2 linked regions of the Homo sapiens genome follow. The protein of the gene in region 1 purifies or fractionates together with the protein of each later gene. This does not show direct contact. Each region holds a gene or a part of one and is shown on either strand. Other genes may lie near its edges.

Region 1 (4,117 bases):
GGCCACCAGAAGGATTGGACCTATTGTCCTAAGTGAGACAGATGTCGGAAAAGGTTTTCAGCAGAGTAGAGAGATCATTTTGTTATGACAGGTTTCAGTTACAAATCAGTTTATGTTGGGAGAAGTATTTTTTTCTTAAATCCACTGTGACCTCTTCTCTGACAAAGGGGGTGTTTGCCAGCTGCAGCAGCCACTAGGTCAGCTTGGTCATGGGGTGGGTGGCATGGCAGGGCAGGGCCCAAACTCGGGAGAATGGGACAGACTGTTATCACTAGGGACCTGCTGTTACCAGGGAAACTGTTAAAATGAGCTGGTTTTCATCAGGTTATTGTAGGATGGAATACATTTTTTGGAGACAAGAAAGTTTTGTGGAAACAGGCATTTATTCACAGATGATTGAAAGCCATATTTACTGGTGAAATGTATGTGCCCCGTGTTTAAAGTGACTTGTGGATTTGCTTTTTCTTTTTTAAATAGGACATTGAAGAATCCCTTTTGGAGCCAGGTACTGATAAGAGAAACACGACAGTTATGGTTTGAAAGTTTTCACACTATTATTTTAAAGCTGTCTATATTTTAAGCTGTGTTATGATCTTGTAAATTGCTCTAATGGTGGACAATCCAGATCATACAAGGATCAGAGATTGGAAACCCATTCGTATCACCAGATCTGTGGAAGAGCCATTCTGGCTTCTTGAGGTCAAATACATTTGGTGCAATGTAGTAGTGATTCTTTTCATGTCTAACCACGTAGAGTGGCATTTAATTCCCCCGTCCCCGTGATTCCTCCATGTGTTTCTACACATGAAACAGATCTTGTGATATTTTGCTGCAGTCATTTTGATTAACGCAGTTAAGGCAGGATAAAGCTGTTGTCAGGGCACTTACCACCTGAGAAGTGACTGGATTCCAGAAGAGGAAACAGAGTTTCTCCGTGAAAATTTTCAACATATTATTCCCCTTCCGGACTGCGTTTATCTCCCACCGTCAGAAGAGATTCTGATTTTCATATTGGATTGTTCTGTTAAAAGAAATTCAAAGAAATTTGGAAGTTGAGCTGTCATTGAATGGTGATTGCATTCGGTTCAGCACCTTGGACATTGGAAAATCAGTCAGAAGACCCAGACTTGAACAAAAACTCGAAGAAGACTATTGAGAACCAGCCGCGTGGTTGTAGGTGTTTAAATCTGTGGGGGCCTTTTCTCTTCCGTGTAGCGTAGAGGCTTACCTAGAGGCGGTCGCGGCGCAGGTAGTGTAACCAGTATAACTTTGTGTACCCGCGGGTTTTCCAATCTCTGTGTAGCTAGCAGTTCTCTTCGTGTTAGTGTGGCAGCCGTGCCAGTTCCACATTTGTGATTGCTTTATTTCCCTGGTAATTAAACCTTGTGCCATTCTATTCCTGTTAAATCCGTAGAAAATGAGAAAATACTCGACATTTTGGGGGAAACTTGTAAATCTGAGCCAGTAAAAGAAGAAAGTTCCGAGCTGGAGCAGCCATTTGCACAGGACACAAGTAGCGTGGGGCCAGACAGAAAGCTTGCGGAGGAAGAGGACCTATTTGACAGCGCCCATCCGGAAGAGGGTGATTTAGATTTGGCCAGCGAGTCAACAGCACACGCTCAGTCGAGCAAGGCAGACAGCCTGTTAGCGGTAGTGAAAAGGGAGCCCGCGGAGCAGCCAGGCGATGGCGAGAGGACGGACTGTGAGCCTGTAGGGCTAGAGCCGGCAGTTGAGCAGAGTAGTGCGGCCTCCGAGCTCGCGGAGGCCTCTAGCGAGGAGCTCGCAGAAGCACCCACGGAAGCCCCAAGCCCAGAAGCCAGAGATAGCAAAGAAGACGGGAGGAAGTTTGATTTTGACGCTTGTAATGAAGTCCCTCCGGCTCCTAAAGAGTCCTCAACCAGTGAGGGCGCTGATCAGAAAATGAGGTTTGTTTTTTCTCAGTTTTAGACCAGACGCTATCTCCTTTTCATTGGTCATGTAATGACACACATAAGCTGTTTTTTTCTGCAATTGGCCAGCCAGACTGACGAAATTGTAGTTTTGCTTCTAAAGAATGTTTCGTTTCTCTTTGTGTGTTTTTAATGGGTGATTCAATTCCTTTTCTTTTTCTCAACCTACCATGGTTGTGTTCTTAAATTGTTAATTGTTATCTTCAGCTAAATCGAATTGACTTTTACAAATCTGACATTGTATTTTTGGGGTCAGATTTTCCAATATAAGCTTGCAGAGGTGTCTGTTAAAATTTTATTTCAGACTAATTTTCTGGTAGGTATTCAGTTTTAGCACATAATCATATTTTTAGTTTTGTTCTCTTTCGTTTTTTTCCTGTATGAGTAACATTAACTTTTGTCTCTAGCTCTTTTAAGGAAGAAAAAGATATAAAGCCAATCATTAAAGATGAAAAAGGTATGATTTAATTTAACGTGGTAGGGAGCCAGGTATGGTTCCCTTATTTTGGGAGGAGGGGCCTGGAGATATACACACTTTGGATTCAGTAATTTGTTTTGTTATGGGTTACCGGAATCAACCACCTAATGGTTTCTTGAGAGACTAGTTTTAGAAGTTCGCAAGCACCTGCATTTTATGTTTCTCTTGTGGTTGTCATCTATGGGATGGTGAAAAGCACATTACAAGAAAGGAATAATTCTGCTCATTGAAGACTGTTTCAAGGATTTTAGAGACTGCCGTCTTGGATGAGATCTGATCATCAAAAGACATTTCAGTTCATAACTGACATGGGCATGATTATTCCTTGAGTAAGGAAACTCAGTTTTTGCTGTCCAGATTTTCAGCCTTCTGTGTGTTGGCATGTGTGTGTGCGTTAAATTCTTAAGTCAGCAGTTGGGATTGGGCGTCGTTAGGGTTTTTAAAGAGGGCTGCGGTCTTAAGAATGGTTGTGCTTCCTGTTAGGCCTTGGGGTGATGCCTAAGAATCTCCCTCTCGTGCCAGGTCGGGTCGGCAGCGGTTCTGGTCGGAACCTGTGGGTCAGCGGGCTGTCCTCCACAACACGCGCTACGGATCTCAAGAACCTTTTCAGCAAGTATGGGAAGGTATGCCTTCCCTTGCCTCATACCATCCACTGTGATTCAGAGTTAAAAAGGAAGCTCTGCTGGGCACGGTGGTTCACGTCTATAATCCCAGCAGTTTGGGAGGCTGAGGCAGGAGGATTGCTTGAGCCCAGGAGTTCAAGACCAGCCTGGGCAACATAGCAAGATGTTGTGTTTACTAAAAAATGGAACGACAGCAGCGAAGCTCGCCCAGTCTTGTGCAGTGCACCTTGTTTCCTGACTCACAGTAACTAGGGTGCGGAGCAGGGCAGGTGGTTGGTCATATCACAACAGTGCTCAGAACAGCTGTATAAACAGCTTCTCTCTCAATGTTCTTGGGGTTCTTTCTAACTGGTCTCAAAGAGACTGGTGGTCTTTTGTCTTGTGCAAAACTTAAAGCTTACATGATGAGATTTTTCCCTTAAGAATAATTTGGGAGGCCGAGGCGGGCGTATCACCTAAAGTCAGGAGTTGGAGACCAGCCTGGCCAACATGGCGAAACCCTGTCTCTGCTAAAAATACAAAAATCAGCCAGCCGTGGTGTTCTGTGCCTGTAGTCGCAGCTACTCGGGAAGCTGAGGTGGGAGAATCACTTGAACCCAGGAGGCAGAGGTTGCAGTGAGCCAAGATTGTGCCACTGCACTCCAGCCTGGGTAACAGAGCGAGACTATGTCATAAAAAAAAAAAAAAAAAAAAAGAATGAAGTGAATAATTGACTTTCATATCATTTAGCATTTTAAGTATATAGTCTCATAACTAGAACATGATCGTGGTTCAAAAATAAATCACTAAGATGCTGCTCATGGGGGTGGGAGAAAAATAGTACAATTCAGCAGCTTTCCAAAGGAAGGTGAGGACAATTTAAAATGATTCCACTGTTTGAAATTAATTAAGAGTCTTCTTTTTTTGTTTGTTTGTTGTTCTTTTTTTTTTTTTTTTTTTTTTTGAGACTGCGTCTCGCTCTGTTGCCCAGGCTGAAGTGCAGTGGTGTGATCTTGGCTCACTGCAGCCTCCGCCTCCCTCCCAGGTTCAAGTGATTCTCGTGCCTTAGCTTCTCGAGTAGCTGGGAT
Region 2 (3,600 bases), on another chromosome or scaffold:
CCCACCCCTTGTATGACAGATGGGGAAACAGACTCAGGAGGGAAAGGGTTTGCCCACAGTTACGCAGAGCTGGGACCCAAATCCCACAGAGAGGCTTCCACTCTGTGCTCTCTCCACGAGAGCAACATTACCCATGCGAGGAGACTGGGGCTCTGGCTTGGGGATGGGCAGGCTGGAAGGGACGGATGTGAAGACAGCACAACAGCAAGAGGGTCCCATGCACACCACTATCAAGCCCAGCCTGGTCTGGCCACCCATCCTAGGCAGAGGGCTGTCATCCCATTTCACGGTGGGGGAAACACAAGGAGGCCCTGAGGTGGCCTGGGGCAGAAAGAGGCCATCCCACCCTGCTGGGCTCTGTGGCCCTCACACTGCCACATCAGGGCCTCTACCCACCCCTGGCATCTCTCTCGCTCTGTTTTCACATTCTCCCACATCTAGGCCACAGGCCGACTCATTCTGAATCTCTTCCATGCTGACTTGGGTGCCCACAGGCTCTGGCAAGGTCTTTTCCATGCCTGAAATGACAGATGTGCTGTATTTCCCAGAGTCCCCAGGCCCAAGAGCTGCCTTCTCCGTCCGCAGCCAGAACCTTGAGGCCCCCAGCATGGATGGCCCTGGACCTGGGTTCCAGGCCTAGCCCTCAGTCCCAGGCAGCACCCAGTCAGGGGAGGAATGAAGGGTCTGGGCAGAGCTGTCCCATCACCAGACCAGCTGGGAGCCAGTGCTCACTTACCTCCACCAGCTTCTACTGCATCAGGTGGCATCTCCAGCCCGCAGACATGAACCACAACTGGTGTTTGCTCTGGAGCCAGCAACGACACCTGCGGCTGGGTGTGAGGCTGCTCATGGGTCTGCTCTGGTGGCTGTACTGACACCTGCGCTGGAGGATGCTCCTGTGGCTGGACGCTTGGCTGTGCCTGTGTGTGGACCTGTGGATATGTCTGTGTCTGGACCTGCTTCTGCAGCTGCAGCTGCACCTGCCTTGGGGGCTGTGAATGTGCCTGGGGCTGCACCTGTGGCTGCACCTGCTTCAGCGGCTCTGCCTCCTGCTGCAGCTGCACCTGCCTTGGGCCCTGTGAATGTGCCTGTGGCTGTACCTGTGGCTGCACCTGCTTCTGTGGCTCTGCCTCCTGCTGCAGCTGTGGCTGCACCTGCTTCTGTTGCAGCACTAAGTGCTCTGGAGAGGTCTGTGTTTGCGCCTGCTTCTGCAGCTTTGGCTGCACCTGGGTGTCTGTGGATGGTATCCGCGGCTGAGTCTGTGACTGCACCTGGGCCTGGACCTGCAGGACCCGTGGCTGGAATCGTGGCAGCACTTGGGCTTCCAGGGCCTCAGGCAGCAGGTCTGGTGTCTGTGTCTGTTTCGGTACTGTCATCCGGGCCTGCGGCTGGGCCTTCACCTGTAACTGCCCTGGAGGTTCCTTCTCTGTGGGCTCTTCTGAGCTAGGAAGGATCAAAAAAAAATCCCAGTCATGTCTTCAAAGAGGCCCCAGGGGCTCCCAAGTAAGGCCAAAACTAGGCCGAGCGTGGTGGCTCGCATCTGTAAACCCAGCACTTTGGGAGGCTGAGGCAGGTGGATCATTTGAGGTCAGGAGTTCCAGATCAGCCTAACCAACATGGTGAAACCTGGGATTACAGGTGTGAGCCACCGCGCCCAGCCCAAGACTGTTTCTTTTTGTTTGTTTTTGGTTTTTTGTTGTTGTTTGTTTGTTTTTTTGAGATGGAGTTTCGCTCTTGTTGCCCAGGCTGGAGTGCAATGGCGCGATCTCGGCTCACCACAACCTCCGTCTCCCAGGTCCAAGCGATTCTCCTGCCTCAGCCTCCGGAGTAGCTGGGATTACAGACATGCGCCACCACACCCAGCTAATTTTGTACTTTTAGTAGAGACGGGGTTTCTCCATGTTGGTCAGGTTGGTCTCAAACTCCCAACCTCAGGTGATCCGCCCGCCTCAGCCTCCCAAAGTGCTGGGATTACAGGTGTGAGCCACCACATACAGCCCAAGACTTGGTTTCTAATGCTGGCTCTACCACTTACAGGCTGGGGATTTGGGCAAACTCCTTTGGCTGTCTAGGCCTCAGATTCACCTAAATAAACCGGGGAGGATCGTTCTCACCTCCCACAACTTGCTGACATGTATCCAATTGGCTTTGTAAATGGCCTGCCCACTACGGTCCCAGATGAACGTCTTCACCCCTCCCACGCAGCCATCCAGCTTGGCCCCCAGGTGGCTCAGTCTCAAGGAAGACACCAGAGTCTGGCTGGGAGCTTCCCCAGGTCAGGTGCGGAAATAAGTAAGGCCTTCCTCCAAATCAGAGGCCAAGGCCCTTTCCTTGCTCCAGCTCCACTGAATGGTGCACCCCCTCTGCCATTGCCACCCCTGCCTTTGCAGGAATGAGAGCACAGGGCACCCGGGCGCAGGTCAGGTTTTCAGCATCAGTTACCTCCTCAATCTCTTTGCTGGCAGCTCGGACGCCTCACAAGGCTCAGGCTCAGGTGCTGGAGTGCGTTTTTCCTTGGCGATGTCCTCTGGGCAGGGCGGTAAATCTTGGTCTGGAATGGAGGCATGAGCGAGGGAACTCATGTTGGGAAGAGCAAGCATCTCTGACCTCCAAGAGATGGGGCCTGGGCTCCCCGCCTTCCCACCAAGAACCCCTGCCTCCCACACCTGCCTCTATCACCTGCTGACCCGCCCACTGGCCCCACCCCATTCATGTCCCTCTGAAGGGCCAGCAGCCTCCCTCCCTCACCTTCTGGTGTGTCCATCCGGGGCTCTGCGGCTTCCTCAGACCCCTCTGGGGGGTCTGACTTGTCTTCCACAGGCATTGTCTGAGAAGAAGAATCCTGCTTCCTTTCAGAAACTATGTTGACATCCAATACCCACCCCTATCAATACCCCCTTGCCCAAGGGCAGCTGCCCCCCATCCTCCAGGGGATGACAGGGCCCTGAGGACCTCTGGTGGGCCTGGCCCCAGAGTTGCCGAGTGGATGATCTTAGTAAAAATGTCCCAACCATGGTGTCTAGGGGATTCTACCTAGTTGTCTGTTAAATAAACCCAGGTTTGGAGGACACAAAGCCTTCTCCTGGCCACAGTGCTACCTCCTGACCTGACTTCCCACCCAGTTTTACATGAAGTAGCCAGTGGGGTCCTTTTTTTTTTTGAGACAGAATTTCAGTCTTGTGGCCTAGGCTGGAGTGCAATAGCACAATCCCGGCTCACTGCAACCTCTGCCTCCTGGGTTCAAGCAATTCTCCTGCCTCAGCCTCCCAAATAGCTGGGATTACAGGCACACGCCACCACGCCTGGCTAATTTTTGTATTTTTAGTAGAGTTGGGGTTTCACTATGTTGGCCACGCTGGTATCTGTGGGTGGCAAGCCACCCAGGCACCGAGGCAAGAGACAGAGGACACGAGCTGTTCCAGTATAATAAAATATAAAACAAGAATTGTTATACCAGATATAGATCTTAGATATGATTATATATGAGTATCATTAATCATTAGTTGGTAGCAATTACTTTTTATTCCAATATTATGATAATCCTCACTCAATAATCATAGCCTAGGAAAAACCAGGCCATACAGAGATAGGAGCTGAGGG

The links.
Region 2: the proteins of SAFB2 (region 1) and CIZ1 purify together in Homo sapiens (affinity purification with mass spectrometry; 2 studies listed by BioGRID and IntAct, with this or other methods). This does not show direct contact.

The regions. Positions count from the first base shown.
Region 1 is NC_000019.10:5,608,928-5,613,044, reverse strand, and holds part of SAFB2 (scaffold attachment factor B2), read left to right. Parts: intron 1-477; coding exon 478-505; intron 506-1,414; coding exon 1,415-1,925; intron 1,926-2,356; coding exon 2,357-2,406; intron 2,407-2,949; coding exon 2,950-3,050; intron 3,051-4,117. UniProt on the Homo sapiens protein: Binds to scaffold/matrix attachment region (S/MAR) DNA. Can function as an estrogen receptor corepressor and can also inhibit cell proliferation.
Region 2 is NC_000009.12:128,177,973-128,181,572, forward strand, and holds part of CIZ1 (cip1-interacting zinc finger protein), read right to left. Parts: intron 2,843-3,600; coding exon 2,749-2,842; intron 2,552-2,748; coding exon 2,443-2,551; intron 1,444-2,442; coding exon 737-1,443; intron 519-736; coding exon 397-518; intron 1-396. UniProt on the Homo sapiens protein: May regulate the subcellular localization of CIP/WAF1.